Linked DNA regions of Homo sapiens. The protein of the gene in region 1 purifies or fractionates together with the protein of each later gene. This does not show direct contact. Each region holds a gene or a part of one and is shown in the gene's direction. Other genes may lie near its edges.

The links.
Region 2: the proteins of MARF1 (region 1) and POM121 purify together in Homo sapiens (affinity purification with mass spectrometry, with the first as the bait; one large-scale study listed by BioGRID). This does not show direct contact.
Region 3: the proteins of MARF1 (region 1) and ARID3B purify together in Homo sapiens (affinity purification with mass spectrometry, with the first as the bait; one large-scale study listed by BioGRID). This does not show direct contact.
Region 4: the proteins of MARF1 (region 1) and NISCH purify together in Homo sapiens (affinity purification with mass spectrometry, with the first as the bait; one large-scale study listed by BioGRID). This does not show direct contact.

The regions. Positions count from the first base shown.
Region 1 is NC_000016.10:15,635,926-15,641,154, reverse strand, and holds part of MARF1 (meiosis regulator and mRNA stability factor 1), read left to right. Parts: intron 1-1,863; 5' UTR 1,864-1,921; coding exon 1,922-2,065; intron 2,066-4,812; coding exon 4,813-5,229.
Region 2 is NC_000007.14:72,930,505-72,935,733, forward strand, and holds part of POM121 (nuclear envelope pore membrane protein POM 121), read left to right. Parts: intron 1-5,229. UniProt on the Homo sapiens protein: Essential component of the nuclear pore complex (NPC). The repeat-containing domain may be involved in anchoring components of the pore complex to the pore membrane. When overexpressed in cells induces the formation of cytoplasmic annulate lamellae (AL).
Region 3 is NC_000015.10:74,588,677-74,593,905, forward strand, and holds part of ARID3B (AT-rich interactive domain-containing protein 3B), read left to right. Parts: exon of another isoform or gene 1-1,143; coding exon 1,144-1,327; exon of another isoform or gene 1,328-1,385; intron 1,386-1,779; exon of another isoform or gene 1,780-2,430; intron 2,431-2,474; coding exon 2,475-2,758; intron 2,759-2,883; coding exon 2,884-3,138; intron 3,139-4,458; coding exon of another isoform or gene 4,459-4,461; coding exon 4,462-4,560; intron 4,561-5,229. UniProt on the Homo sapiens protein: Transcription factor which may be involved in neuroblastoma growth and malignant transformation. Favors nuclear targeting of ARID3A.
Region 4 is NC_000003.12:52,458,570-52,463,798, forward strand, and holds part of NISCH (nischarin), read left to right. Parts: intron 1-92; coding exon 93-275; intron 276-5,229. UniProt on the Homo sapiens protein: Acts either as the functional imidazoline-1 receptor (I1R) candidate or as a membrane-associated mediator of the I1R signaling.

The DNA.
Region 1 (5,229 bases):
GAGAAATTAGCCACATTTTGCATAGGAGGAAACAGAAACTTGAAAACAAAAATTTTTTTAGAGATGGAATCTCACTCTGTTGCCCACGCTGAAGGGCCAGTGGCACAATATAGTTCACTGTAGCCTCAAATTCTTGGGCTCAAGAGATCCTCCTACCTCAGTCTCTCTAGTAGCTGGGACTAGGCGCATGCTGCCACACTATGCTAATTTTTTGAACTTTATTTTATTTTAGAGCTGTGATCTTGCTATATTGCCCAGGCTGACAAAAGAGCCACGTAGTAAATATAGGCTTTGTGGGCCATACAGTCTCTTTGCAGAGACTCTCTTTGCAACTCTGCAATTGGAATGCAAAAGCAGTCATAGGCAGTATTTAAGTGAATGAGTGTGTCTGTGTCCCAATTAAACTTTATTTATGGACACTGACATTTTAATTTCATGTAATTTTGTTTGTTGGTTTTTGAGACAGGGTCTCACTCCGTCGCCCAGGCTGCAGTGCAGTGGTGCAATCACAGCTCACTGCAGCCTTGACTACGCAGTCTTAGGTGATTCTTCCACCATAGCCTCCTGAGTAGATGGGGCTACAGGCATGCACCACCACGCTCAGCTAATTTTTTGTAGCCATGGGGTTTTGCCATGTTGCCCAGGCTGGTTGGGAACTCCTGGGCTCAAGCAATCCACCCACCTTGGCCTCCCAAAGTGCTGGGATTGCAGGCCTGAGCCACGGTGCCTCGCTTGCATTTATTGTTAAGACCTGTAAGAGTGTTGTTGCTCTGGCGTAGATATAACACATCTGCGACTTGAGATTTTTCTATCAGTTAGATTTTTGGTGGTATATCAGATTGCACTTTCATCATTAGTAAACTAAGAAATTGGTTCAATTTGTTCTGTAGCAAATCAAATTCAAAGTCCACAGAGGCCACTTAGTTTGGACTTTTCATGCTCAGATCAAGAAACCAGTGCAAGAAGTTGCTCTTAAGTCAATTTTAAAATCTTACATATAGTTGTCAATGAGGATGTGGTGGTGGCTCTTTTACTCAGATTAGATGCTCTCTTCTGTTAACTTTTGACTTTCCTGAGCAGCATCTTTAGGGAGAGAGAGCCGAAAAGAATTCAGAAAAACTGTAGAAAAAATTGATTCCAGCCAAGTGAGGAGGTGAAGTCTCACTCTGGAATATGCAAGTTTCCAAGATATGGCTACCTCTCTCAAACATGGTTACATGTGGAAAGGAAACAAGACTCATGGAGAGTTCATTTTTTATTTGAAGAGCTATGAAACATGAAGAATGGCAGATTATAGATTTTTTAAGAAATCAGGTTGTTGCAGTTAGATTTTAAGCATAAACAGTCAACCAAGTTTACCAAATTTTATTAACCCGTAATATGCTCTGATATTTTGTGTTTTTTTCTTTCTTTATTTTATTATTATTATTTTGTTTGTTAAGATTTGAATTGTTGGCCGGGCGCAGTGGCTAATGCCTGTAATCCCAGCACTTTGGGAGGCCGAGGAGGGTGGATCACTTGAGGTCAGGAGTTCAAGACCAGCCTGGCCAACTTGGTGAAACCCCATCTCTACTAAAAATATAAAAATTAGCCAGGCATAGTGACAGGCTCCTGTAGTCCCAGCTACTCTGGAGGCTGAGGCAGAAAAATCGCTTGAACCCGGGAGACGGAGGTTGCAGTGAGCTGAGATCGTACCACTGCATGCCAGCCTGGGCGACAGAGCGAGACTTCCTCTTGAAACAAAGATTTGAATTGTTGAGAGCCATAGGACTGTAAATATAGCTGTGGTTTCACATTTTAGTATGTTGTAAAATTTGTACTTATGCAAGGAAATAACACTGAAATCTTACTCATTCTTAACAGGGTGGAAGAATGAAAGAAAAGAAAGATGAAAGGATGTTGAATCACTTTGCATGGCTGTATGATGGAAGGAAACGGAACTGAGAACTCCTGCAGTAGAACACGTGGATGGCTTCAACAAGATAATGATGCTAAGCCATGGCTTTGGAAATTCTCTAATTGCTTTTCTCGTCCTGAGCAGACGCTGCCACATAGTCCCCAAACGGTAACTATATGCAAGACTAAGGATGTAGCAGATTCCTCATCCAAATAGATGAGAGAGGTCCATTTGGTCTGGGATACAGTCTCTCATCCTAGAGTCTGTGCCACATTTTTCTGTAGATCTTGCCTGTATTGCCTCTTATACCACATTATAATGTGAGAGCACAGCACAATTTTTTAACTCTTCTATTTCACTTTGAGTAACAGTAGATGCCTTGAATATTTAATGTTAAAATTTGGGAAAGATTTCTTCCTCATTAAAGTCACAGGTAACAAAGATTAAAAATCCACATTGTGGAGTAAAATCAGAGGAAAATACAAAATATGTTGTATTTTACTGTAGCCCTCTTGAGTTTTGAGTCTATAATCTAGGAAGGGTTGGGAAGAGCTTATCCACTGCCTGTTTTTTATTTCGAGATTTCTCTTGAATATTTACTTCTCAGTATACATTTATGTCTCTAACTTCTTGCTTACTCATTGTGATTTTGACATTTTCTTTTTTTTTTTTGAGGTGCAGTCTTGCTCTGTGGCCCAGGCTGGAGTGCAGTGGTGCGATCTCGGCTCATTGCAACCTCTGCCTCCCAGGTTTAAGCAGTTCTCCTGCCTCAGCCTCCTCAGTAGCTGGGATTACAGGCCTGTGCTGCCATGCCTGGCTAATTTTTGTATTTTTAGTGGAGACGAGGTTTCGCCATGTTGGCCAGGCTGGTCTTGACCTCCTGACCTCAAGTGATCCTCCCGCCTCAGCCTCCCAAAGTGCTGGGATTACAGGCGTGAGCCACCGCGTCCAGCCAATTTTGACATTTCCTGACTTCATGCACTCATGTTACCACCTTTCTATTTCTTATTTTCTATTGTATGTGGGATTCAAGTGAGACTGTAATATAATTTTATATAAGGGTATTAACAACTTTTATTTGATTTTATTTTTTGAGACAGAGTCTCGGCTCAGCCCCCTAGGCTGGAGTGCAGTGGCACGATCCGGGTTCACTGCAACCACTGTCCCTAGTTCAAGGGATTCTCCCGTCTCAGCCTCCCTAGTAGCTGGGTTTACAGGCACTCGCCATTATGCCTGGCTAATTTTTGTATTTTAGTAGAGATGGGGTTTCACCGTGTTGGCCAGGCTGGTCTTGAACTTCTGACCTTAGGTGATCCACCCGCCTCGGCCTCCCAAGTGCTAGGATTACAGGCGTGAGCCACCGCGCCTGGCCGGGTATTAATAACTTTTTAAAAACCAGTTTAATTCTCTATTTTCTCTAGGTTTTCACTATATAGTTGTCTTTGTTGCAAGACATCAAGTAATTTGGGTCATTTTAGGAGTGTTTTATTTTAGAGACAGTTGACAGTGAGGGTTGGCATCAAAAGCAAGGCTTCCTGGGATGGGGTGGTAGATCTGGTCCTCATGGAGTCACACAATTCAGAATTACACGGTCAACTTTACAGATCTTGAAACTCAATTTTGTCAGTGGCATGCAGAATGGAGTAGGTTCAGGGGATCAACTCATAGTAAGCCTGCCTGTATGAGCCTGATCTGTATAAATCAGAATACCAGTGTGTTAATTTCAGTCTGAACTATAATTACCAAGAGGGCAGTTCATTGGCTGGTCAGCCCGTTGCTGTTATCTCCCTTTTAGGGAAAGTTTAGCTGAAAATTCACATTTCTTCCAGATGAGCCTATGCTCCCAGGTGAGTGTAGAATCACAGCAAAGGGAGTGGAATTTTAGGCGTCAGATGGACCCTCATATGCTGTGAACGGTGAGCACGTCTCAGTCACTGTAGCAGGGCCCCCTCTTCATCTTAATGTCTCTTGCAGTCAGCCTGTGAAGGCTGATGAATTCAGTCCCCTTTCAGTGGCTAGGTACTGTGCCAGGTGGTCTATGTGCTCTATCTTATTTTATCCTCCTAGCAACTCTAGGAGGTATATTGTATTCCCAGTTTATGGATGAGGAAACCAAAGTGTAGGTTAAGTAACTTACCCAAGGTCATACAACTATTGAGTATCAGATTCTAACCCAGGTCTCTGCCACTGATGCTCTGCTCAGAACCTTTGTAATATACTGGCTTCCTGTGTCTGTGTTGGAGTCATGTGGCAAACTATTTGTCTTGGATCTTTTTCTTGGATAGTTTTCTAATTCTCTAAATCTTTTCACTGGCTGCAATATAATTGTCATTATGGCTTTAGGTCATGATATCTTAGGGTTTATGAAATGTCATCAGCAACACGGATGGGCCATCTGGGTAGATGGCTGATCTCATCTGTGTTTGAAACTTTACTCTTTTCCTTTGGGGGATCTTACTAAAACCCCTTATGGCCTGACCACAGAACTATTAAGTATTGTCCTCAAACCACTGTGTGTGTTAGCCATCTTTATTGAATGCTGTTTGTGAGGGGTTGTTTTCATACCACCTATTTTGTCTTCAGAAGATTCTGTGAGGCAAGGGGAAATTACCAAAAGGAAGTTACTGAGGCATGGTGGCTGCTAAAGATGTAAACAGGCCCTCCCACCCCAGTCTGTTTCAATTCAGGAAGAATGTAGTCTTAATTTTAGTTGTGTGTTCCAGTGTTCATGTCCTGCAGACCTCTCTGAAGAATGTTCCTGGTTTTAACTAGCTGTGATTCCATTTTGTTCAGTTATGATTTAGTGATGTAACAGAATTGAACACTATTTCTGTTTGTGCATGCAGTAAGATATGAGTAACCAAAAAACCACGGACCTCATAAAATTAATTTATGTTCTGATTTTCTTTTCTCAGAAAGAGTACATGGAGAACAAGAAAGTTGCTGTGGAACTAAAGGATGTACCATCACCCCTTCATGCTGGCTCTAAGCTTTTTCCAGCAGTCCCACTTCCTGATATTCGTTCTCTTCAGCAGCCTAAAATACAGCTTTCTTCTGTCCCCAAAGTAAGCTGCTGTGCTCATTGCCCTAATGAACCCTCCACTTCGCCAATGCGTTTTGGTGGTGGTGGTGGCGGTAGCGGAGGTACCAGTAGCTTGATTCACCCGGGCGCACTGTTAGACTCGCAAAGCACCAGGACAATCACGTGTCAGGTAGGGTCAGGGTTTGCTTTCCAGTCTGCATCTTCACTCCAGAATGCCTCAGCTAGGAACAATTTGGCAGGCATTGCAAGTGACTTTCCCAGCATGTGTCTAGAGAGTAACCTGTCTTCC
Region 2 (5,229 bases), on another chromosome or scaffold:
GATAAACGGACAGAGGGTGATTCGAAAGGTAGACTGAGTCCAGCTTGTATTGGGTCGTAAAAGAGATTTATCTTATAGGCGTTTAGAATTGAAAGCGGGGTTTTTAAACAAGTGGTCATGATTTTTTGGAAAAGGGATTATCGCATAGTATAGGGAACAGGGCAGGCTTTGCTGCTGGACAGACTTAGATTCAAATCTTGGCTCTGAGGCTGGGCGGGATGGCTCATGCCTGTAATCCCATCACTTTGGGAGGTCAAGGTGGGAGAACCTCTTGAGTCCAGGAGTTCAAGACTAGCCTGTGCAACAGAGCAAGACTGTGTCTCAAAGAAAAGGAAAAAAATGCTTGGCTCTGACATCTAGTAGCTATAAGGTCTTGGGCAGACAATCACATAACATCTCTTTTTCTTATCTCTGAAGTGCTGTTGCAGTGATTGAGGGTAATATTTAAAAAGCACCTATTACAGTGGCTGTCAGTAAGTGGGTACCCAGTATACAGCAGCCAGACAAAAAGATGTAAAGCATGTATGGAGAAATGTTTTTGAGAGGAGGAAGATTTTGAGACGAGTTCATCAGCCCAGAAGGCTCTGACAGTCATATAAATGAACATTAATGACCGTAATATCATTATCCCTCTTAATAATTTAAGAGGGATAATTAATATTATTTAATATCTAGTTATTATTTTTGATATGCAAACTTTTCCAGCTTTGGACTATGGGTTCCAAACTGGCTCCTGTATCCTTTATTTTGATCCCAGCAGTCTTCGACAGATAGCTTCATTGCTTTTTGCCCACCTTCCCAAAGTCCATTTTTAGCCTATACCGAAGTTGGGTGTTTCTTCAGAAAGCTTTGGTTTCTTCCAGTTAGAACTGTAGAGACTACAGTCTAAGTTTTAGGAGAGATAAGATAGACAGATCCTCTAGAAAGGGGAATATAAATAATTCATAATATTCCAAATTCAAATTTATGATAGTAGGATTTTTTATGTAATTTATTTGATTTTATATTTTTATGTATTACACCAAAAATGTCGGTTTATAATTACTTTGATCCTAGTAACACGCAATTTCTTTTTTTTTTTTTTTGCCGGAGTCTTACTCTTGTCGCCCAGGCTGGAGCACAGTGGTGCGACCTTGACTCACTGCAATCTCCGCTTCCTGAGTTCAAGCGATTCTCCTGCCTCAGCCTCCCAAGTAGTTGAGACTATAGGTGCCCGCCACCATGCCCAGCTAATTTTTGTATTTTTAGTAGAGACGAGATTTCACCATGTTGGCCAGGCTGGCATCGAACTCGTGACCTCAGGTGATCCACCCACCTTGGCCTCCCAAAGTGCTGGGATTACAGGCATGAGCCACCACGCCTGGCCCATGCAATTTCAAAATAGCGGTATCAGTGTCATTGTTAACACTGTCATTATTAAGACGGCTGAAGTCAGTTTAAGAATTGTGATTCATTTGTCTTTATATCCCTGTGTGAATGCTACGGACATGTAATCAATATATCGTGTTTTAAAGTAATGTTAATTGTCCTTTGGGTACACCAACTTTATATACAGTGAGGTTCGTTTGTTCAGTATGTTTGAAAGTTACAGGGATTTCTGTGTTTTCCTTTTTGAAATAGTTCTGTTTTAAATTATGTAAAATCTTTGAAACAATAAGTTGTTTCAAAAAAAATACACTAAAACAAGATACACTCAAAAATTCAGTTTCCATCCCTTTCCACTCTACATTTTTCCTTCCTCTCCATTTTTATTTTTTGATTATCCTTTATTGTTTTTTAAACGGTATGCATATCAGTGTATCTGAAAACCGCCACCTTCTAACATTTAAGGTAGTAGACAGTATATACAGATTTGAACCTTGCTTTTTCACATAATAGATAGTTGAGGTCATTCCATAGCAGTACACAGAAACTCATCTTTGGTCTTAAAACTGCATAGGTACTTTAGTCCTCTGTTGACAAATGTTGGGTTGTTTCAGTCTTCTGCTATCACAAATAATGCTGCAAAGAATACATTTGTTCATATGTCATTTCATCCTTGGCAATTTTGCCTCTGGAAAGTTCCTAGAAGTCAGATTCCCAGGTCAAAGGTTAAATGCGCATGTAATTTTGCTGGATATTGTTAAATCCCCCTACAGAGCATGCACCACTCAGCATTCCCCTCAGCGTTGTATGAGAGGGACCATTTCTCCATGGCCTCACCAGCAGATTTGGTTATTGTAGCTCTGGGCTTTTACCAATTTCACAGGTTAAAAATAGTATCTAAGACAGGCGTGGCAGCTCATGCCTGTAATCCCAGCACTTTGAGAGGCCGAGGAAGGCAGATCACTGGAGGTCAGGAGTTCGAGATCATCCTAGCCAACATGGTGAAATCCTGTCTCTACTAAAAACATAAAAATTAGCTGGGCATGGTGGCACATGCCTGTAATCCCAGCTACTCAGGAGGCTGAGGAAGGAGAATATCAGGAACCTGGGAGGCAGGGGTTGCAGTGAGCAGAGATAGCGCCACTCCACTCCAGCCTGGGCGACAGAGTGAGACTCTGTCTCAAAAAAAAAAAAAAAGCCAGCCGAGCTTGGTGGCTTACACCTGTAATCCCAGCACTTTGGGAGGCTGAGGCAGGTGGATCACCTGAAATCCGGAGTTTGAGACCAGCCTGGCCAACGTGGCAAAAACCGGTTGCTACTAAAAATACAAAAAATTTAGCCAGGCGTGGTCGTGTGTGCCTGTAATCCCAGTTACTTGGGAGGCTGAGGCAGGAGAACTGCTTGACCCTGAAAGGCAGAGGTCAAGTGAGCCGAGCTCACGCCACTGCCCTCCAGCCTGGACGACAGAGTGAGATTCTGTCTCAAAGAAAAAAAGGTATCTAATTTTTGTCTCTTATGAGTAGTTTGATCATCTGTTCATATGTTGAATGATTATTTTCAGTTCTGTTTCCATGAGTCTTAGTTCATATCCTTTACCCATTTTTCTGAAGGGCTACCAGCCAAATCTCATGTTCAAGAGTTTTTCCTATAGTAGAGAAACCTATTCCAAATGAAGCAAAGTTTTGAACGTAAAATAGAAACCATAGAAGTGCAGTGTTAGAAGAAACAGGCTCCTCACGCGTTGCTGGTGGGAGTGTCAGTTGGTACAGCTCTCTAGAGGGCTTTGTGACAGGAATTGTCCACATAAGAGATACATGCACCCTTTGATCAAGCAGCTTTACCTTTAGGAAGTTATCCTACACACATACTGGGAAATGGATACAAGGATTTAATGTAACATTGTTTTAATAATAGCAGCTTGGAAACAATGTACATGTTATCTTTTCAGGGAGCTGACTGAATAACTTACAGTATTGGTGTAAGTTGGAATATACTATGTAACTATGAAAAAGAATAAGGCAACTGAAGAAGTACTCATGAGAATGATCTCAAAAAGCAATTACATAAAAACAAGGCTCAGAACTGTATAGTATCCTCTATTATTCGGGCTTTTAAAAATCTTTTAATATGCATAAAATAATTCTTACAGGATATATTAAAAACTGGCAATCATTACTGAGATAAAAAGGAAATTTACTTTTTACTGTACAGTCTTTTTTTTTTTCTTTCTTTTGAGACAGAGTCTCGCACTGTCGCCCGGGCTGGAGTGCAGTGCTGTGACCTTGGCTCACTGCAACCTCCACCTCCTGGGTTCAAGCAATTCCCCAGTCTCAGCCTCCCAAGTAGCTGGGATTACAGGCACCCACCACCATGCCCGGCTAATTTTTGTATTTTTAGTAGAGATGGGTTTTCACCATGTTGGCTAGGATGGTCTCGAACTCGTGACCTCAGGTGATCCGTCCGCCTTGGCCTCCCGAAGTGCTGGGATTACAGGCGTGAGCCACCACACCTGGCCCCAAGTTGTTGTCTTTTTCTTAGAGATTTGAATACGCTCTTTATATGTTCTAGATACAAGCTGTCTGTCATGTATGTGTTGCAACAAAAAAGTGTCCTGCTCTTGCCATTCTACTTCCTTGTGGTTAGCATACTTTGTGTAGTATTCAGGAAATCTTTGCCTACCTAACCTAAGGTCATGATAATTTTCTTCTGTGCTACCTTCTAGAAGCTTTATTATTTTATTATTACTTTTATATGTAAATCCATAAACCACCTGAAATTAATTTTTGTATATGGTGTGAGGTTGGAATCAAAATTAGTTTTTTTTGTGTTTGGTGGTGTTGGTGGTTTTTGTTGTTGTTGTTGTTGTTTTTTACTGTAGAAATACCCATTTCTCTTAGCAACATTTATTGAAAGGACCATCCTTATTTCTCTGCAGCACCGTCTTTGTCTAATTTAAGTGTCTGTATATATGTGGGTCCATTTCTAGACTCTGTTTTGTTCCATTGGTCTATTTTTCTACCTACCCTTGTGCCAGTCTTTGTTTTACCCCTAGCCTTATACTTTAAGTCTTGATAGAGTCAGTCATCCCACTTTCTCATTTCTCTTCAGGACTGTCTTGTATCTTGGCCTTTTGCATTTTCATATAATTTTTAGATCAACTTGTCAATTTCCACAAAAAAAAAAAAAAGTTCTGAGATACTGATTGGGATTGCCTTTCATCTACTGATTACTTTGGATGGAATTAACATTGTTACAATATTGACCTTGTTTACTTCTAATCTATGAACATGGAATGTCGTTATTTATTTATTTAACTTTTGAGACAAGGGGTCTTGCTCTGTGGCCCAGGCTGGAGTGCAGTGACATGATCATAGCTCACTACTGCCTTGAACTCCCAGGCTCAAGCGATTCTCCTGCCTCAGCCTCTTGAGTAGCTGGGACCACAGGCATGCATCACCACACCTAGCTAATTTTTAAAAACTTATAATAGAGACACAGTCTCACTATGTTGCCTAGGCTGGTCTCAAACTCCTGAGCTCAAGCAATCTTCCCACCTTGGCCTCCCTGAGTGCTGGGATTGTAGGCGTGAGCCACCATGTCCTGCCTCCTTCATTTATTTACATCATCTCTATTTCTTCTCTGTAGAGGTTTTACTTCTTTTTTATTAGATTTACAATCTCGGCTCACTGCAGCCTCCACCTGCTGGGTTCAAGTGATTCTCCAGCCTCAGACTTCCGAGTAGCTGAGATTACAGGCACGTGCCACCACACCTGGCGAATTTTTGTAGTTTTAGTAGAGACAGGGTTTCACCTTGTTGGCCAGGCTGATCTCAAACTCCTGACCTCAGGTGATCCACCTGCCTCT
Region 3 (5,229 bases), on another chromosome or scaffold:
GAGCATCCCAGCCGGCTGTGAAAGGACTTGCCCCGCCCTCACCATATCCCCTGGTGCTCATTAGTAGCCCTTCCTCCTCGGTGCCAGGTTTCCTAATCAAGTCCCTGGCTCCTCTCACTTCCCCTCGGGGCCATTGGGTGGAAGCTGCTCTGACCCTCCCCCTTTCAGAGGCCAGGGAGTGGGTGGAGTGATTGGTGTGGGGAGAGAATTGAGTGGCTTTTCATTCCTCTGGAGACCTGTGTGTCCAGCAGCTCCTTTGACATGGCGGGGCACACGAGAGAGAAATAAACCATTTCTCCATCAAGCAGGAGAGGAGAAAGCAGGCATGTGCAAACAAGCACACTCTTTTTTTTTTTTTTTTTTTTTTTTTTTTAAGACAGTCTCACTGTCGCCCAGGCTGGAGTGCAGTGGTGTGATCTCGGCTCACTGCAAGCTCCGCCTCCCGGGTTCATGCCATTCTCCTGTCTCAGCCTTCCGAGTAGCTGGGACTACAGGCGCCTGCCACCATGCCAGGCTAATTTTTTTTGTATTTTTAGTAGAGACGGGGTTTCGCCATGTTAGCCAGGATGGTCTCGATCTCCTGACCTCGTGATCTGCCCGCTTCGGCCTCCCAAAGTGCTAGGATTACAGGCGTGAGCCACCGCACCCAGCCAGCGAGCACACTCTTATAAGCAGCACTGAGCGCTGCCAGGAGGGTGACTAGGCAGGGCTCCCCTTCTAGGAAGTCAGAGAAAGGCATCCCAGAGGAAGCTGCCGCTGAATGGAGTCTGAAAGCTGCAGAGATAAGTCGCCAGATCACTAGGAATAGTCTGGAATCATACTGCCAGCAAAACAAAAACAAAAACACACACACACGAACTAAAAAACAAGCACCTTTGAAATCATCTAGTCTGGCCCTCTTATTTACAGACGGCAAAACAGAACCAGAGAGGCTAAGTGCTTTGCCAAAGGCCCACACAGCCTGTGCGTTGGACCTGTCCTGACAGCTAGTCTGAGTGTTCAGGCTTGGGGAGTTTGAGTTAAATTACACTTCCAGGTTGATGAGCATTGTTTCCAGCTCGGCTAAAGGTGGGCATACACGGAATCTTTCTTCTCAGCCTGATGATGATCCCGCTGTCTCTTTCTCTCGTTGGACAACCACAGGGACCCCCATCAACCGAATCCCCATCATGGCCAAACAGATCCTGGACCTGTACATGCTGTATAAGCTGGTGACCGAGAAGGGAGGCCTGGTGGAGATCATCAACAAGAAGATCTGGAGGGAGATCACCAAAGGCCTAAACCTGCCCACATCCATCACCAGCGCCGCCTTCACCCTCAGGACGCAGTGAGTGGCCAGGGCCTGGGAGAAGGAAGCTGAGGCTGGAGAAAGGGGATGTTGTAACCTAGAGGAGAGGAAGGAAGGAAATTCCTTTGTATGGTTAGCAAGATGAGTGGATTCCCGAAACAGTGGGGAGCTTTCTGAGATGAATCCCTCACTAAACCAAGTAGTGATGAGAACCACCATTTACCAAGTGTCTACTCTGTGCTGGTACTTTACTATTTCATTTAAACCTCACAGTCAACCCTGTAAAGTAGGTATGCCCCCATTTCCCACATTACAAAAATGAAGTCTCCATGGTTAAATAATTTGGCTAAGGTCATATACCAGCCAGTAAGTGGTAGAGCTGAGATTCAGACCTGGGCTTCTGTCTCTAAGACCTGTGCCCCTTCCAGGACATTGTCTTCCAAACAGCATCTCCACCCCAAGTGGCCCCTCTTACCTGATATTCAGCTTACCCAGCGGCAGAGGACCCAGAGAAAGGCAGGCAGGAAGGCCCCCTTGGATTGGTGACCTGGTTTTGTCAGCATTTGAGTTAATTACATGGGTGATGGAAGCGGTGAAACCAATAGTAGCACTGAAGAATGAGGGCCAGAGAGGAATCTTTTCTTCTGGAACACTCTGGAAGTTGTTCTGTGAAGAGTATGCAATGAACAACTGACATCAGTTAGGTAGCATGTTGTAGCTACAACCAGAATGGCAAGGTTCTTGGGTAGAGAACTGCTTCTTGGGACCTAAGACACAAAGAATGACAGTGTCTAGGTCCCATGCACAATGGGAAGAATTGCTCCTATCTGACTAGCCCAGCTCTGAATGGTTATAAGATCAAGAAGTCAGAAAGCCCTTGTAAAACATGGGCCTAATTTTTCCCAGGGCTTCAAAACAAATGTGAAAACGCCAACTAAGATGTTATTTATTTCCCCTAATGAATGGTGCTTCAAAGTAGAGCCTATTTAGGATTGAGTGGCAGTCAGAGGAGGCTGGGGCAGAGTGTCCGGCCATCCCAGACTTTTCTGCCAAGTATACCAAGGTTGCAATCCTTTGCCCTAGAGTCCTGCCCAACAGAGACTGCTTCCAGAGACCCACCAACCTCAACTGGGTGGTCTCTGGTGCTGTTTTGGATTATTCTCCCTGCTTGCTTCCTTTCCTCCAGGTACATGAAGTATCTGTATGCCTATGAGTGTGAGAAGAAAGCCTTGAGTTCCCCAGCCGAGCTCCAGGCAGCAATTGATGGCAACCGCAGGGAGGGCCGGCGGCCCAGCTACAGCTCCTCCCTCTTTGGCTACTCACCTGCTGCGGCTACTGCTGCTGCCGCTGCCGGGGCCCCTGCCCTTCTCTCCCCACCCAAGATCCGCTTTCCCATCCTTGGGCTTGGCTCCAGCAGTGGTACCAATACCAGTAGCCCTCGGATATCCCCAGCAACCACTCTCAGGAAAGGTCAGCAGGGCTCCTGGGGGAGAAGGAAGAAAGGGAGGAAGGGATGCCAGTTCCCTGTGTTCAAGACTGGGGTTTTGGGGCAAGAGGGTCAATTGTGGATTGGTCCAGCTCCAGTTCCTTTGCAGGTGATGGAGCCCCAGTGACAACAGTGCCTGTGCCAAATCGTCTGGCTGTGCCCGTGACCTTGGCAAGCCAGCAGGCTGGTACTCGGACCGCCGCACTGGAGCAGCTGCGGGAGCGGCTGGAGTCAGGGGAGCCTGCTGAGAAGAAGGCATCGAGGCTGTCTGAGGAGGAGCAGCGCCTGGTGCAGCAGGCCTTCCAGCGCAACTTTTTCAGCATGGCACGGCAGCTCCCCATGAAGATCAGGATCAACGGCAGGGGTGAGCCAGGCTCAGGGCCGGGCCTTCCCTTCCTGGAAACCCCAAGCCCATTCACGCCTCCTGGGACTGGTGGGGCAGGGGTGGTGAGGCACATACTCCTGACCTGGAAGAGGCCCCTCCAGGTTCTGCCTTCCAGGCCCCTAGAAGAGAGGCACTGAGATCTTAGTTCACCAAGCTGAGGTTGTTTGGTAGAGGGGACCACATGTTGCCTCAGGCAGTGCCCTGTTCTCTAGTAAGAGGGAAAAGCAGTTATTCACAGAGGAGGAGCCAGAGGCCTTCAGAGAGCTGCTGCGTTTCCCCACCAGCCATTACCCCAGCACCTCACTGGATGTAGGCAAGAGCAGGGCACCGTCTGCAGGTCTGGGAGGAAGACACCCCATGTTCCTGAGGCTCAGCGAGGGGCCAAGTTGCCCCGGGCTGGACAGTGGGACTCAGGAATATAGACAGAAGGAGGAAACACAAGTTTGGCAGCATAATTGACATCCTTTCCCTTCCTCTTCACATTGTTCTGGTGCCCCACATTCTCTTCCTCAAGCCACACGCCCCTTTTCCCATTCACACACATTCTTTCCCATTCTGGTCCTGATGCTATCTCAAAGCAAACATGAATGAGATGTGTGGGAAGGAGCCAGGTGTGAAGGGAGCTATACATATTCCCAGGCTGCCCCTCCTACCCCATTGCCCTTGGGGACCAGAAGGAAACTGGGAGGTAACAGCTCATCCAGGGCCAGGTACCCTGCTCCTGCACAAAGCAAAGGGCTGTTAGAAAAGACAGCTCACCGGGAAGAATTCTGAGTCTGGGGTGAGCCAGCCAAAGGCCGTGTGTGCCAGCACTTGCAGGCTTCCACAAACGCCAGCTGCCTGGGTGGTCATGGAGGGGAGGGGCTGAGGGCGTAGACTCCTCTCTCTGAGGGACTCAGAGTCAAAGGAAAGAAAGGGCAGGTGGGTCCTCAAAGTTGGGGCTGGGTCTCATTGATCTCTGATTTCCTGGGCCTGGTGTATAGTGTAGTTCAGGGTTTGCCCGTCACTTGGAAAGTGCCAGTGCAGAGTGGTGGGGCCGGAGCCGGCCTCCTTGCCTACTGTGATTCCTTTTCTCTGGGAGCAGAGGTAGTTGAGGGGATGAACTGGGTCAGTGGAAAAAGCCAGCAACAGGAGATTGGCGAGCCTGGGATCTCCTGCCATACCCTACACTCAGGAGAAGGTTACATAGATGCCTTTTAACAGCGTGAGGCTTTGACCAGGGGTGGCCAGGCAGCATCAGAGAGGACAACAGGAGTGCTGTGGAAGGCTTGACCAGGCCCACTGTCTCCCTGTCCCCAGCAGAAGACAGAGCAGAGGCCTCGGCTGCAGCACTGAACCTGACCACGAGTAGCATTGGGAGCATTAACATGTCTGTGGACATCGATGGCACCACCTATGCAGGTGAGGCCCTGGAGCTCTGGGGGAGGCCCACGTGGCCGCAGCTAGCCACAGGGCAGCTCTGCGGCTGGCCCTGCCTCTTACCCTCTGTCTGAACACCTCCCACAGTGGCTTCCTTTTTCCTGGTCTCAGAGTTGCAAAGGTCAAGTGGTCCTCTGGACTAGTAGACTGTGGATTGTTAACAGGATGATAGGTCCCTCCCACTTTGGCAGAAACCCTTCACCTAACCCTTTTAGACCAGTGGTTGGCTCGTTAATTGAAGAAGTCAGTCAGTGTCCCACAATCCCCAGGTCTTCTCATGCACAGCCTTTCTCTGACTGTAATTCAGCTCTTCTCTTCCTTTTGCAGACTGAGACACAGGCAAAGGAACCCCAGTATAGGAGAATCAGCTTACATTGTTAAGCTCCCTGCCCCCCAGTCTTTTACAGTTATCTTTTCCTAAACCTAATTTGGCAACAGTGTTTTGTTGGTTGGTTGATTTCGCACCTTTACAGAGTCTTTCTAAGGGTTTAACTTAGTATTCATGACTGGGCACGGTGGCTGATGCCTGTAATCCTTGCACTTTGGGAGGCTGAGGCAAGAGGACCACTTGAGCCCAGGAGTTTGAGACCAGCCTGAGCAACATAGCAAAATCCCAAATCTACAAAATACAAAAAAAAATAGCCAGGCATG
Region 4 (5,229 bases), on another chromosome or scaffold:
TGACAAGCGCCTGCCCTCAAGCTTCTTGCCTTGGTCTTACATAGGCACAGAGCCTCTTAGTCTGTGGTTGATGTGCTTATGTTTTTTTACAGCTCGTTGCAGAGAGAAAGATTGATAAAAATCTGCTTCCGCCCAAAAAGATAATTGGGAAAAACTCAAGAAGCTTGGTGGAGAAGAGGGAGAAGGATCTGGAGGTCTACCTCCAGAAGCTCCTGGCTGCCTTCCCTGGCGTGACCCCCAGAGTACTGGCCCACTTCTTGCATTTTCACTTCTATGTAAGTTCCTCATCGGGTTTTCACCTGTGCCTGCAAACCCACAACTGCCAAACTTGAGGCAGCAAACCAGGGGAGACCTCAGCTTTGAGGTGGGCTGGGGTTTGACCCTAGGTTAGAAGATGGAGGAACGTCACCCTGGTTAGGAATGCATTGTGGCCAGAAGCATGTTAGTTGACAGATTTGCCGTAAATTAGACTAAATGTGGCCACAGAGATGCTTTCCTCCACCACAAGGCATTTTGTTTAGCAAAAATGGCCTGTGGGTGTTTAAGCTAGGTTTCCATCCAGATGGATGAGGCTGGATTAGAAATAGCTGACACCTGGGATAGACTATTGTTGAGTTGTTGGTGCATAGCCCAAAACTAATTAAGGGATTAGTCTGTGATGGTGGAATATCACCATCTTGGGGCGTGTCATCAGGGTCCGCGCTGCCAGGGTGCTAAGGTTGAGGGTGGACACCTTCCTGTGATGGGAGAGTGTGTCATAGAACAGCTCTGTACTCCGTCCTTGAAAGAGGAACAACTTTCATAGGTTGCCGGTGACAGAATGCGTTGTCAGACTTTAAGAAGGGCACTTAGGCAGTGTGAAACCACAATATTTGTGCTTTTGAGACGGAGTCTTGCTCTGTCACCTAGGCTGGAGTGCAGTGGTGCGATCTCGGCTCACTACAACCTCCGCCTCTTGGGTTCAAGCAATTCTCCTGCCTCAGCCTCCCGAGTAGCTGGGACTACAGACTTGCACCACCACACCCAGCTAATTTTTGTATTTTTAGTAGAGATGGGGTTTCACCATGTTGGCCAGACTGGTCTGGAACTCCTGACCTCAAGTGATCTGCCTGCCTCAGCCTCCCAAAGTGCTGGGATTACAGGCGTGTGCCACCGCACCTGGCCAAAACCACAATATTAAATAGCAGTTCTATTTATGAGAATTTCTTCTAAGGAAAAATCAGGCAGCCGCAAAAAGGATATATGAACAAAGGTAGTCATTCCAGGATTGTAACAAAATAGTAAGGACAACCCTAAAGTCTAGTAGAAGAGGTTAAAAAAAAAAAATCAGGCCAGGTGCAGTGGCTCATGCCTGTAATCCCAGCACTTTGAGAGGCTGAGGTGGGCAGATCACTTGAGGTCAGGAGTTCAAGACCATCCTGGCTAACATGGTGAAACCCTGTCTCTACTAAGAATACAAAAATTAGCTGGGTATGGTGGCAGATGCCTGTAATCCCAGCTATTTGGGAGGCTGAGGCAGGAGAATCGCTTGAACCCAAGAAGCAGAGGTTGCAGTAAGTCGAGATCATGTCACTGCACTCCAGCCTGGGCAACAGAGTGAGAGTAAGACTTCATCTCAAAAAAAAAAAAAAAAAAAAAAAAAATCAAAGGGTACAGCCAGGCTGAGCACAGTGGCTCATGCCTGTGATCCCAGCTCTTTGGGAAAATAAAACAAAAAAGAAATCTGCAGCTCCACCATCATTATCCCAGCAGCACACCAGTCTTCCCAGCAGACACTGTCTCAAAAAAAATGCAACTTTCTTAAGCAGTATCCAACTGTATGGCTGTACTATTTTTTTTTTTTTTTTTTTGAGACAGGGTCTCACTCCATTGCTCAGGCTGGAGGACAGTGGCCTGATCATGGGTCACTGCAACCTCAAACTCCTGGGCTCAAGGGATCTTCCTGCCTCAACTTCCCAAGTAGCTGGAACTACAGGTGCATGCCACCACACCCAGCTAATTTTAAAAATTTTTTTGTAGAGATGGGGTCTTGCAGTATTGCTCAGGTTGGCCTCAAACTCGAACTCAAGCCATCCTCCCACCTCTGCCTCTCAAAGTGCTTAGACTGTAGGTGTGAGCCACTGCACCTGGCTGACTATGGTCTCATTTTTACAAAAAACAAGTTGATATGGACATATTTGTCTAGGAAAATTCTAGAAGGTTTACGTATACCAAAATGCTAAGAGTAGTTTTCTCTGAGTGATAGATTTTCAGATAATTTATATTTACTTGTTTTCCTTTTATATGATGAAGACAGGGAAGAATCCACTCCCTTTTCAGGCTCACCTTGAAGTAACCTGTGGATTATGGTCCTAAAAGCCCAGCTGTATTTAAAATACAACTTTCTTGGCCAGGTGCAGTGGCTCACGCCTGTAATCCCAGCACTTTGGGAAGGCCCAGACAGGCAGATCACTTGAGGCCAGGAGTTCGAGACCAGCCTGGCCAACATAGCGAAACCCTGTCGCTACTAAAAATACAAAAATTAGCTGCGCGTGGTGACTCATGCCTGTAGTCCCAGCTACTCAGGAGAGAGGCATGAGAGTCGCTTGAACCTGGGAAGGGGAGGTTGCAGTGAGCCGAGGTTATGCCACTGCACTTCAGCATGGGCCACAGAGACTCTGTCTCAAAGAAAAAAACAAAAACAGAAGAAACAACTTCCTTAAACTCTTTTCAGAGTAAGACAGTTGAACCTTTCTTGGATCACTAAAGAGCCTAGAAATTTGGTGGCGAGTGCTAACCTGGGGCCACTGAGCTTGGCAGGGACAGGTGGAAAAGTAGATAGCATTCACAGATGGGACCTGTGTATATGCTTTGGATTTTATTTAGCATATACCAGCAAGTATAGGGTTAGCAACATACCCTTTCGTAAACATATTTTTATACTTTCTTATGTGAGAAAAAATTTGCATTCCTTATGCAAGTCTTTCAGATAAACTTTACTGGTTAGTATTTTAAGAAATAATGTACTTTAAAGGCCGGGCGCAGTGGCTCACGCCTGTAATCCCAGCACTTTGGGAGGCCGAGGCGGGTGGATCACGAGGTCAGGAGATCGAGACCATCCTGGCTAACACGGTGAAACCCCGTCTCTACTAAAAATACAAAAAATTAGCCAGGCATGGTGGTGGGCTCCTGTAGTCCTAGCTACTCGGGAGGCTGAGGCAGGAGAATGGCGTGAACCCGGGAGGCAGAGCTTGCAGTGAGCCAAGATCGTGTCACTGCACTCTAGCCTGGGCGACAGAGCAAGACTCCGTCACAAAAAAAAAAAAAAAAGAAATATTGTATTTTAAGAAAGCTTTGGTTAGCCATTTAGGGATGAAACCTGACATGCAGTCCTTTGACGGTATTAATTCCTTGCTTGAGACCTATGCCTTTGAGGAGAGGAGGTCTCGCTGGCTGCCTCACGTGTGCCTGGCTCTGAGGGTGGAAAGGCCTGGACTGCTCTTTTGAAACTGGTTTGCCTGAGATGTGCCTGGGGCCGGCTACATCTGGTTCTGGTTTGAGGCAGGCTCCGCTACTTGTAGAAGTTTTGACATATTTGGAATTAGTATTATCAAACAGGTCCCTAGGTTATATAAATCCTAGGATTTAAAAAAGCAATTGAACCCATCGTTGGATTAAACCCACAGTTGATCAGCCATAGCACTGTTGACATTTTGGACTGGATAATTTGTTTCTGTAAGGAGCTGTCCCATGCATTGTTTAGCAGCACCCTGGCTTCTACCCACTGGATGCCAGTAGCACTTCCCCACCCAGCTATGGCAACTAAAGATGTCTCCAGACATTGCCAAATGTCCCACTGGGGGGCAAAATTGCCCCCCACTTGAAAACCACTGGATTAGATCTTCATTTGGGGCCTAAAGATTTGTCAGCCTTTTCTCCAGGCTGGGAGCTCTCTGGGGAATGTTTCTCTTAACTTTTATACTGTCTGTATCCTCTCTGAAATTGTTCCACATGTGTTCTGCCTCTTGTGTTGCTGACATTGGATAGGGTGGACCCAGGGAACCCTATTTGGCTATGGTGTGAATTTTTTTATTTTTATTTTTTGAGACGGAGTTTCGTTCTTACTGGCCAGGCTGGAGTGCAGTGGTACGATCTCGGCTCACTGCAACCTCCACCTCCCAGGTTCAAGTGATTCTCCTGCCTCAGCCTCCCGAGTAGCTGGGATTACAGATGGCCCGCCACCACACCCAGCTAATTTTTTGTATTTTTAGTAGAGACGGGGTTTCACTATGTTGGTGAGGCTGGTCTCAAACGCTTGACCTCGTGATCCACCTGCCTCAGCCTCCCAAAGTGCTGGGATTACAGGCATGAGCCACCACGCCTGGCCATGGTGTGGATTTTTAAAAATTGAGATATAATTTACATACCATAAAATTAACTTTTTAATGTGTACAATTCAGTAGTTTTTAGTATATTCACAAAGTTGAGCGACCATCACCACTATCTAATTCCAGAACATTTCATCAGCCCAAAAAGGAACCTGTACCTGTTAGCAGGAGCTTCCCATCCCTCTGTCCCCCAGCCCCTGGCAGTCACTAATCTACTTTCTGTCCTTATGGATTTGCCTGTTCTGGACATTTCATATAAATAGAATCATACAGTGTGTGGCCTTTTGTGACTGGCTTCTTTCATTTAGCCTTATCTTTTCAAGGTCCGTTCATATTGTAGCATGAATCCATTGGTCCTTTTATGACGGAGTAATAGTGTATTATTTGGATATGCCACATTATGTTTATTTATTAGCAGTTGATGGATGTTAGGTTTGTTTCCATTTTTGGCCATTGCAAATGATGCTGCTATGAGCATTTGTATGTTAATTTTTGTGTGAACTTATGTTTTCATTTTTGTTGGATATATAGCCAAAAGTGGAACCTGAGTTATATGGTAACTATGTTTGACTTTTTGAGAAACTAACAAATTGTTCTCCACAGTTGTTGCACCATTTGACGTTTCCATCGGCAGTGTATAGGTTCTAATTTCCCCACATTCTTGCTTAACACTTCTTGTCCATTTTTTTTTAAATCTTAGTTGTTCTGGTGGGTGTGAAGTGGTATCTCATTGTGGTTTTAATTTACATTTCCCTAATGACTAATGTTATTGAACCTCTTTTTTTTTTTTTTTTTTTTTTTTTCTGAGACAGAGTCTCGCTCTGTCGCACAGGCTGGGGTGCAGGCATGTGATCCCGGCTCA